Linked DNA regions of Homo sapiens: region 2 is linked to region 1. The links come from fine-mapping of genetic effects on gene expression. A gene starts in region 1. The other region holds a variant in brackets. All regions are shown on one strand. Distances are between the middles of the regions. Region 1 holds the start of SLURP2 (secreted LY6/PLAUR domain containing 2). Region 2 holds the start of LINC02878 (long intergenic non-protein coding RNA 2878).

The links. PIP is the estimated chance that this variant, and not a neighbour inherited with it, causes the effect.
Region 2: its variant is the best candidate, but not a certain one, in a credible set for the expression of SLURP2 in sigmoid colon (GTEx, PIP 0.60).

The regions. Positions count from the first base shown.
Region 1 is chr8:142,766,579-142,771,934 of GRCh38, forward strand. It overlaps SLURP2 (secreted LY6/PLAUR domain containing 2), which reads right to left and starts at 3,250. Exons shown (of 3, transcript NM_177458.3): 1 at 3,177-3,250. The coding sequence starts at 3,228. The region is part of intron 3 of LYNX1-SLURP2 (LYNX1-SLURP2 readthrough); the gene reads right to left. LYNX1 (Ly6/neurotoxin 1) reads right to left here. Exons shown (of 4, transcript NM_177477.4): 4 at 4,624-5,356.
Region 2 is chr8:143,692,533-143,697,888 of GRCh38, forward strand. It overlaps ZNF707 (zinc finger protein 707), which reads left to right. Exons shown (of 6, transcript NM_001100598.2): 6 at 1,139-2,853. The coding sequence ends at 1,998. LINC02878 (long intergenic non-protein coding RNA 2878) reads left to right here and starts at 4,583. Exons shown (of 2, transcript NR_015445.1): 1 at 4,583-5,109. The variant C/G (reference allele first, on the strand shown) is at 2,279.

The DNA.
Region 1 (5,356 bases):
CCCACTCCCGAGGCCTGCTAGCCCTCCTGGGCACCCCCCAAGGGCTTCCCTGCCTGCTCTCTGCCCCTCTTCATCCCTGACTCTGTCCTCTCCTCCCTGGCCGCCTCCATCCATTTCTCATTTCTCAGCCTCCAACTCCCTCCCTCCCTGTCCTCACCCTTGGTTCACACACCCAGGACTGGGTAAGCAGAGTCCCTAACACCTGCTGGCCCCAGGCCTGCTCTCTCTGCATAGGAGCCTGCAGGGTGACAAGGCCAATGGTGTGGCCATAAGGATGTGAGGGCTGCTCTGTCACAGGCACCAGGCGCAGGCCCTGGCTTCCTCTTGAGCTGTGCCCCAGGCAGCCCAGCCTCAGGACACAGGAGCCCACGCCTGCCCTATCCCATCTCTGCTGGGCTGCCCCCGCCTCACTGTTGCCAAAGGTGGAGAAGGGCTGGAGTCAGCCCCAGTCAGTGCCAGCTCCAAACCCGGGTTCCTGACAGCATGGCTCTGTATGCACCAGCACTGAGCTGACCTCAGACCTCAGTGCACACCAGGCCCCTGCCACGGGCCAGAGTCCTCTGGTCACCCCTGGGTCCTGTGGGCGGAATCCTCCATCGAGGCACCACGGAGAAGGTGACACAGATGGGAAGTTCCGGCCAGGGCAGGCCCCTGCCATCAGCTTTGGCCCCTCTACCAGCCCCGGAGAGCAAGCTGAGACCCCACCTTCGAGAAAGAAAGGTGGTGACAGCTGCCTCCAAGCCCCTCTCTGCCTTCCCACCAAAGTGGCTTGAAGCTCCCCTTGGCTGTCACATCCAACCTAGTGACAGCCAATAAGTCGGACACGCCTCTACTCAACACTGGCAGCCACAGGCCACAGCTGGCTGGGGTGGGGGGTAGCAGGGAAGATGGGCAGGAGGCTGGGGCACCAGAAGGAGGAGGTGAGGATATGGGTGCCCAAGGGTGCCATGGAGAGAACCAGCTCCAGCCTGTCCACTACACATGCCCACGCTCCCAAGGCCTCCCTGGCTTTGAACTTGCTGTTCCTCCTGCCCTCTGGGCAAAACAAGCCCTGGTGCAAATGCCACCCCCTCCAGGAAGGCCTCCTTGGTTTCCAGGGCAGAGTGAATGGTTCCAACTCTGACACACCCACCGTGAACTGCAGCATCCTGCCCCAGCTGGCATCAGTGTCCCTGCTCCAAGTGATTGTGCTCAGGGCTCCTTCCTCACCCCCACCCAAGCATGAGGGCCTCTGAGGCTGGGCAGGGCGTTCTACCCATTCCTCAGTGCTCCCTCCCCTGCACTTAATGAGGCCCAGGAGAGGCTTGCAGAATGAATGAATAAATGAATGAATGAATGAATGAATGAATGAATGAATTCCGGGGGTGGTTGCAGGTTGGGTTATCAAGAGAAATAATAATTCTGTCCCTTATCAGAGGGTTTTTGATTTTCAGCAATGAGATCCTGAGGGAAGCAGATAAAATGTTAGCTCCAAACCGGAAAGGCTGCTCGATGGTGACTGTGAGGACACAGGGACAGTGTTCAGACTGGCGCCTGACACACGGGAGGGAGGGGAGATCAGGGGGAGAAGAGGAGAGAGGAAGGGAGGGAGGAGGAGAGGAAGGAAGGAAGGGAAGGAGGGAGGAGGAATAGAGAGGAGGAGGGAGGTGGGGTGGGGGGGAGGGGGCAGGAATAATGGAGGGACAAACAGGATGGTGGGATGGGCTCTGGGTGTAGCTGCATGGCTGGGGGCAGGTCTCTCCCACTGGGGACCCCCGTGCTGGCTCTGAAGCAGGCTGGCCCCTCGGGGAGATTGTGCTGTCCATGTATGGCAGAGAGCAGACACCAAGCAATGACAGGGGATGCAGGTGCCCCTGAGAGAGGCTCGCCAGTCCTCCAACCGGAAGAGCAGTGAGGCAGCTTGGGGCTTGTTCCTCGAGGGGCAGGTGGGATTTCAGCAGAAGGAAGGGCTCCAGGAGCCCTGGTGCAGGGAAGGGCCTCTGGGTCAGAGGGGAGTCCGTGGGCACCGGGCACCCAGGCAGAGGCTCCTGTGATGTGCCATCCCTGGCCTGGATGGCCACCTGACTGCCTGTCCAGTCCTGATGGTTACAAAGGCCTTCTCCAGGTTAAGTCGAGTCCCCAGGCCCCTGTGTGTCTCGGACCTTCAGCACAGAGCTGGTCTGCCCTCATGACCCTGGGGCAGTCCTCAGGGTCAGCGGCTCAGCCTCTCATAGGCCAGGAGGGTGCCCCTGGGGATGGAGACTGGAGGGATGTAAGAGACACCTGAGCCAGCGCCAGGGACTCACCGACGCTCCACCCCCTGCTCATTCAGGGCCTGGGAGGCAGGGGCTGCCCAGGTCGTTCAACCCACAGCCAGGGACGCAGAGGCTTGGCCCCTGGGGGGCTGGGCTGCTTGGGCTTGGAGGTGCAGGCCACCGGCAGATCAAGGGGCCAGCTGGTTTTGTTGAGGCCTCAGGGTGGGGGTGGAGATGCCCTGCCAAGAGAAGACGTTCAGGCTCTGCTGGGGGATGCCAAGGCCAGGTGTGCACAGCTGTGCTTGAGGGGTCATCCCCTTGGAGCCCTCAGGAAGGCCCTGGGCCAAGGGATCTGAAGCTGGGGGGACAGGGCCAGCCGTAGCAGACGTGGGCACTGCGGGGGTCGAGGGTTGGGGGATGGGGAGGGGGTAAAATCACCCAGGAAAGCGGGGAGCAGAGGAGAGGACCCGGGAGCAGGAACTGGGGATGGGAGAGCAGAGGGACTTGGTTTTCCCAGGCAAGAGGGAAGAGGGAGTCCCGGGAGGGTGGCCCCAGGAGACAAACCAGCTGGGAGGCCAGGCCCAAGAGGGCTGGAGGGGGGCACATTCAGAGTGTGTGTGTGCACGTGCACGAAGGTGCGTGTGTGAGGGGTGTCGCGGTGGACTGGAGAGGTCTGGGGGCTGGGCAGAGGAAGAGGGGGGTTTGAGCCAAGGGCTGTGCATCCTGAGAAGTGTGGGGGCCAGTGTCGGGGGCTGGGGCTGAGCTGGATGGACCTGCAGGATCGCAGGAGGCTTTCGGAGGAAAGCTGCACCTGGTAGATGGTGGGGGGACAGGAATGGGTTCTCCCGAGGTGGGCAGTCACAGCCCAGGGCTGGAGGGACGGTGGTTGGGCTAGAGTGATGGGGGCCTTGAGCAGGAGGTGGCCCCAGCCCCTGGACTCACCCAGCTGCAGGCTCAGGACGGCGGCCAGCAGGAGCCCAGTGCCGAGCTGCATGTTCTCCTGGTGAGGTCGGGCTGTCGGCGCCCTGGCCGGCTGCCTTATACCTGCTGGCACCCCGCCCTGGCCCTCGCCCGCTCAGCAGACTCTGCGGGTCTGAGTCACCAGGCAGCCGGGCTCAGTCAAGGAGCCGGGCTGGGGTCCGGGCGGTAGGGGCCAACCTGGCCCCAAAGCTCGCTGGTTAGGCCTCTGAGCGGGCCGGTGTCATCTCATGAGCCATCTCTCCTTGTCCATAAAGTAGGGATAGCCCTGGCTGACAGGATTGAGGATCTGATAAAATGGCCTGGCACCAGGCAAGCAATGGCCACAGGCCACTCTCCCTCAGTGGCTGGGAAGGAAGGCCTGGCACCAGGCAGGTGACGGCCACAGGCCGGTCTCCCTCAGAGGCTGGGAAGGAAGGTCTGGTGGGAAGGAGGGTCTTGGGCACCAGCCACCAGCCCACCCCTTACGCCTCAAAATGCACATGAAGCTCAGGGCTGGGTGGAAGCCACAGGCCTTCATCTGTACTCCCACCCTAGAATGAGTTCCATGACAAGACCTCCTCCAAATAAGCCAGAGCTTTCCCATCCTGACCCCCGCAGGGCTGGGAGAACACAGAGGGAGCATGGTTGTGAGCCACCTCTCTGTCATCCGTACAGGGAATCATGGCCATTGTCACACTGTGACTAACGCCCCAGGATCTGTGCAGAGGAGTAGGGGGGACAGAAAGGCCCTTGGTACTAAAAGGGACCCCAAGGATAAGGTAAGAGCCCAGAAGGGACACCCTGGAGAGCGGGAGCCATCAGCTGTTCCTCCAAAGGCTGGCCAGGGGCTGGGGCCCCAAAGGGCCTGTCCGTAGCCAGTCAGCCATGCCAACCCGGGGACCCCTATGTGTCTCTCGGGCTGCCCACATGGCTTCTGTCTACCCCTCCGTTTCGGGGGCTCCTTATGGCTGGGAGGTGGGCCCAGGAGGAGGGAGATCCTGAAAGAGGGGCTGGCAGATCCAGGCCCTCCTTCCTGGGGCAGTCGAGAAGCTGGGGTCAGGAACCAGGTAGGCAGAGAGGTCAGAGATGGTGGGATGGGGTCCTGGGGGAGTTCCCGCCTCCCTTACCCCGCACACCCAGACTTCCTCAGGGGTTTGTATGCCCCTCAGGGGTGCTGGGTGGGGGGTGGCCTCTCTCCCACGGAACTGGGAGCAACTCTCAGCAAGCCCCAGGAGCCCTGCCTGTCTCCCTCCCTGTGCCTGGCTCCGAGGACAGGTCAGGCCTAGAGGCCAGAAAAGTCCAGGACCTGGACCGGGTAGGGTAGACAGGAAAGTGGCTGCATGCAGCCTGGAGTGCCAGCCCAGCCAGGCTGGAAAGGTGAGGCCCGAGCTCAGGCCGAGGCAGTGGGGCTGGAGAGAAGCGCAGACAATGCGAATCTGTTGATTTATTTACGGCTCGGTGAGACGACGCTGGACGCTGGTTAGGGTAAGGGTTAGGGCAAGCATTAGCAGCAGGGGCATGGCCCTGGGAAGCACCTGGACCCCAGAACATAAGACAGGAGGGAGAGATGCCATCCATTCAGCGGGCACTTATGCCCACGACCAGCTGAGCCAGACCAGCATTCCCATTTCACCACCCCTTACTCCTCAAGATGCAAATGAAGCTCAGGGCTGGGCGGAAGCTGGCAGGGCTGTCCACAGGGAGGACCCCCGTGTGTCTCTCGGGCTGCCCAGGTGGCTCTGTCCACCCTTCTGTCTGGGAGGCTCCTTAAGGCTGGGGAGGGCCCAGAGGGAAGGAGATCCTGAGGGGCTGGCAGATTCAGGCCCTCCCTGCGAGCTGAGGTTTGAAGAGGAGAGCAGACCACCCAGAGTAGTGGGAGAAAGCACCGGCAGAAAAGCTGGCATATCCACCGAGGGCCTCTCTGCTTCTTTTGACCTTTTTCAGAGTTTCAGAGTTATGAACCAAATCGCCTTCATGAGAGATGACGAATCAGATGCTACATAGTGGGGGAGGCGGCAGCTGGCCTGGCTCCCCCACTTCCCCAGGACCTCCGCCTGGAGGAAGCCTGCCCAGGGCCGCAGCCCTGCCCCCAAAGACCCCAGGACAGACCAGAGCTCCTGCTGGAGCCGGGTGTCCCCATGCTGACCTGGCCATGTCCCCAG
Region 2 (5,356 bases), 930 kb after region 1:
GTGGAGCCCCCGGCTGGGGAGGTGTTGCATCCCCGGGTGTGTGGAGCCCCCGGCTGGGGAGGTGTCGGATCCCCGGGTGTGTGGAGCCCCCGGCTGGGGAGGTGTCGGATCCCCGGGTGTGTGGAGCCCCCGGCTGGGGAGGTGTCGCATCCCCGGGTGTGTGGAGCCCCCGGCTGGGGAGGTGTCGGATCCCCGGGTGTGTGGAGCCCCCGGCTGGGGAGGTGTCGCATCCCCGGGTGTGTGGAGCCCCCGGCTGGGGAGGTGTCGCATCCCCGGGTGTGTGGAGCCCCCGGCTGGGGAGGTGTCGCATCCCCGGGTGTGTGGAGCCCCCGGCTGGGGAGGTGTCGCATCCCCGGGTGTGTGGAGCCCCCGGCTGAAGGGAGCCATGGCTCTGAGGCTGAGTGGTTGAGAATCAGGTGGAGCTACCCGTCTTCTAGACGACATCCTAGCACCACCTCCACCCGCATGAGTGGGGCCTGCTGGCGTGGACAGGGTGAAAGGACATTCTCTTGGCCCAGTTGCTTCTGTTGGTTGGCAGGCATGTGTCGGCTCTCCCTCACGTCAGCAGTGCCGGGTGGCCTGCGTACCACCGGGGCTGGGGAAGCATCTGAGCTCATCTTGGCTTCCGCTGTTGATACCTGTGGCTCATCTGTGTTTCTTTGAACGAGTTTTCCTGATCACTCGTAACCATGTGGAATGAGCTGAGTCAATGGAAGCCAGTCCACGCACACAGCAGGAGGGTCCTCTGGGCTTTTTTTTTTTTTTTGAGACGGAGTCTCGCTCTGTCGCCCAGGCTGGACTGCGGACTGCAGTGGCGCAATCTCGGCTCACTGCAAGCTCCGCTTCCCGGGTTCACGCCATTCTCCTGCCTCAGCCTCCCGAGTAGCTGGGACCACAGGCGCCCGCCACTGCGCCCGGCTAATTTTTTGTATTTTTTTTTTTTTAGTAGAGACGGGGTTTCACCTTGTTAGCCAGGATGGTCTCGATCTCCTGACCTCATGATCCACCCGCCTCGGCCTCCCAAAGTGCTGGGATTACAGGCGTGAGCCACCGCGCCCGGCCTCCTCTGGGCTTTGCTGGAGGCACTGCCTGGCTGTGGGCCACTGGCTCTGTGTAAGGGTGTCTGTTCCTTCCACAGGGGCAAGGAAGTCTGCAGACCCCAAGAGACCTTGTGATCATCCAGCTTGGGCTCACAAGAAAACCCACGTGCGGCGAGAAAGAGCCAGGGAAGGAAGCAGCTTTAGGAAGGGCTTCAGGCTGGACACGGATGACGGGCAGCTTCCCAGAGCTGCTCCAGAAAGGACAGACGCCAAGCCCACGGCTTTCCCGTGTCAGGTGCTCACGCAGCGTTGTGGGCGGCGGCCGGGCCGCAGAGAGCGCCGGAAGCAGCGCGCAGTAGAGCTGTCATTCATCTGCGGCACGTGCGGGAAGGCGCTCAGCTGCCACAGCCGGCTGCTCGCTCACCAGACGGTGCACACGGGAACCAAGGCCTTCGAGTGCCCCGAGTGCGGCCAGACCTTCCGGTGGGCTTCAAACCTGCAGCGCCACCAGAAGAACCACACGCGCGAGAAGCCCTTCTGCTGCGAGGCCTGCGGGCAGGCGTTCAGCCTGAAGGACCGCCTGGCTCAGCACCGCAAGGTCCACACCGAGCACAGGCCCTACTCGTGTGGCGACTGTGGGAAAGCCTTCAAGCAGAAGTCCAACCTTCTCAGACACCAGCTGGTGCACACCGGGGAGCGGCCGTTCTACTGCGCGGACTGCGGCAAAGCCTTCCGGACCAAGGAGAACCTCAGCCACCACCAGAGGGTCCACAGCGGGGAGAAGCCCTACACCTGTGCCGAGTGCGGCAAGTCCTTCCGGTGGCCCAAGGGCTTCAGCATCCACCGGAGGCTGCACCTGACGAAGAGGTTCTACGAGTGCGGCCACTGTGGGAAAGGCTTCCGTCACCTGGGGTTCTTCACGCGGCATCAGAGGACTCACAGGCACGGGGAGGTGTAGGGGCGCCCGAAGAGTGGGGTGCTGCGCCTCTGCGGGAGTACTGGGTCCTGAGGGAGAGCTGCAGTGAGAAGTTGCTCTTCAGCCTGGAAAATCAACCTGAATTCAGAGAAGCCTTCTTAGTCCTCAGAGCTCCCCAGTCCCCCGAGAAGTTTACTGGGAAAACTGCCAGGTGGGAGAAGCAGAGCCATGGGTACGCCGGAGATGGCGGGGGCTCTGGAGATGGCGGGGGCTGCGCCCCGGCGCCGGGCATCCTGGGGATGTGCTGAGAGTGTGCGCGACC[C/G]CGGAGCCACGTGCCAGGCCGGGCTCAGAGGCGGAGAAGCCTGCCTGGTGCCCACAGCCGTCTGGCTCAGGGACTCCACCCTGGCCCCGAGTCGCCGTCTGCTGGGCCTTTCCTTCCTGGCTCTGCACCCCATGCTGGCTGCCCGGTCTGGCTTCCCTTCTTGTCTCTGTCTTGGGCGAGGCAGCTGTGAGCATTGCACAGAGGCAAAGACCCTCCTGCAGCCTCTGCGCTGGGCCGTAGAAACAAGAGCCTTTGTAATACTGAACCTCATTCAAGGATTAGGAGTGGTGGTTAGGTCAGGGCCACCCCCAGTGCTGCAGGAACGGCCTCCACCCAGCTCTGTTGGTCAGAGCCTGGGTCATGCACCTGGAGTTGGGAGATCAAGTTGGGTCTCAGGGCAGTGAGGTGGCCATATCCACCACATCGCATTTCGTGGGGGAAGAGGTGACCTCTTTGTTTTAAACTTAAGGTGTCTGCTTATCCAGCCAGAAATAAAAATCTGCCAGTGGTGTTCCCAAGGGAAGACCCCCGTGGGAATGGGTCGGGACACTGCCGTGTTTCAGGTTAGCCAATTATTTTTGCTTTTGCCTGTTTTTCTTTAAGAATTGCAGCCAGGCCAGGCGTGGTGGCTCACGCCTGAAATCCCAGCTACTCGGGAGGCTGAGGCAGGAGAATCGTTTGAATCCGGGAGGTGGAGGTTGTGGTGAGCCAAGGTTGCGCCATTGCACTCCAGCCTGGGCAGTAAGAGTGAAACTCCGTCTCAAAAAAAAAATTCCAGCCAACAGATGCATATGTAATGTTGGAATCAGAAACGAGTTTACAAGAAATAGGGGGATGAGGAGAAGGTTGAACACACCGAGAGGAAGCCCTGAGCCAGATCCGGCTGGAGATGCCACCAGACGGCGACGTTTCTGTGGGAAGACGGGCACGCAGAAAGGCCGAGGGGGCTGTGTGTGACCCTGGTAGGAGCAAACCGAGTGCGAAGTCACTTTTGAGACAATCATGGAAATGTGGGCACGGGCCGTGAGTCGGGTGGGTAGGCCGTGAGTCGGGTGGATGGACTGAGTCGGGTGGGTGGGCCGTGAGTCGGGTGGATGGACTGAGTCGGGTGGGTGGGCCGTGAGTCGGGTGGATGGACTGAGTCGGGTGGGTGGGCCGTGAGTCGGGTGGATGGACTGAGTCGGGTGGGTGGGCCGTGAGTCGGGTGGATGGACTGAGTCGGGTGGGTGGGCCGTGAGTCGGGTGGATGGACTGAGTCGGGTGGGTGGGCCGTGAGTCGGGTGGATGGACTGAGTCGGGTGGGTGGGCCGTGAGTCGGGTGGATGGACTGAGTCGTGTGGGTGGCCGTGAGTCGGGTGGGTGGGCTGTGAGTCGGGTGGGTGGCCGTGAGTTGCGTGGTGGGCCGTGAGTTGCGTGGGTGGGCCGTGAGTCGGGTGGGTGGGCCGTGAGTCGGGTGGGGGTGCGGAATTGGCTGCTAGCGGTGATGGTGACACAGGGTTACGGAGGAATCCTCACTCAGATGCATTTGGACGTCTTTGTGGGGAAATGACGTGGCGCCTGGGATGTACTTTACGATTCTAATAAAGAGGAGAAAGACACAACAGTATTGGCTGAATGTTGACAGCTGTTGAAGCCGGGAGGTTGGTGTGCTTAAAAGTTCCCCAAATCTTTTATTTGCAGCATGAGTATGAGTTTCTTCGTGCTCACGGAAGATTGTAGAGAGCAGCTGTCGGTCATGGAGTCACAGGGCTGCCTTACCAGGACACCACCGGCAGCCCCACAGACAACACAGGTTTATTCTCTCCAGCTCTGCAGGCTGGAAGTCCGAGGTAGAGGTGCCAACAGGGTCCGTTTCCGGCGAGCGCCTCCTGGTTCAGAGGCATCCTCATGTCAGGAGGGGCTTTGGTGTCACCTTTTCCTTGTGAGGGCCCGGATCCCATGACCCCTATCACCCCATCGAAGCCAAATCACCTCCCAGAGACCTCCTCATACCATCACGTCGGGCCTAGGGCTTCCACATGGGAATTTCAGAGTGACCATTCAGCCCGTAGCAGAAGCTCCTCTGGGTCTGTCCTGGCCCACAGACCCTGTGTAGGAAAAGCACTTGCCCCTGCGGGGCAGGCCCTGGCAGAGCCCGGTGAGGCAGTGAGGGCCCTGCAGGATAAGTGGAAATCTCCCCAGGGGGGATATGGGGGTGCCTTTCTCTTACAGAGTCCAGGCTGGTAAAAGCGCATGTGTGTTTCGTGTCTGGTTTGTCCCCTGCCCAGCGGGCGCCGTTGGAAGGGCCTTCAGGTGCTTGAGCACAGGTGGGGACGGAGCAGCTGGTGTCTCGGCAGTAGATGCGGCGGATCATAAGGACTTGGGTTTTGAGCGCCCTGCAGGAAGCCACTGGCCGCGTCCAGGGTCACCTGTGCCTGGTCGTTAGTCCCTCACAATGCTGTCACTTTGTGACGCTCTTGTGCAGGATTAAATGTGAACAGCAGAGACGTGGGTGATGCGCTGCCTCGTCAGATGATGGTCAGTTGTCCAAGCGGGCTGCCTTGCTCTTGGTGGCCTCATCATCCAGGGCTCACACACTGGATGGTTGGGCCACAGTCGCGGTACCCCCCGGGCTGCAGGCTTTCCACCCTGCTTAGCAGGGCTCCAGGGCTCCGGGTAGAGCAGGGGGTCCCTCCCTTGGCACTTCCCCAGGGAGGAGCACGACCGTGCTCAGCTGCGGTCAGGCTGCTGCTCTTAGTTGTCTTTCCTTCTAACACTCAGGCTTCCCTTCCTGCCTCCTGGGTCGCTGAAGAAGGTCAGGTCCACAGAAAAGGCCTGGGGAGAGAATGGTGGTGAGGAGCCCATGGGGGTGTGAGGGGCCGGGAGGCTCTGCATCTTGCCCTGTTGGCCTCCTCACCACCCAGGCGGGGGTGGGGTGACAGAAGGGGCTCACAGCAGGTGTCCCGTAAGGAGCATCTTCCTTCCTGGGGCCAGCAGCCGTCACTCCCTGTGAGCCTGTAGAGCCGAGTTTTCTCTGCATTTATCTTGGGCAGAGAATGCATGAAGCTACTTCGCGGCCAGAATGGGTGCACAGCAGGG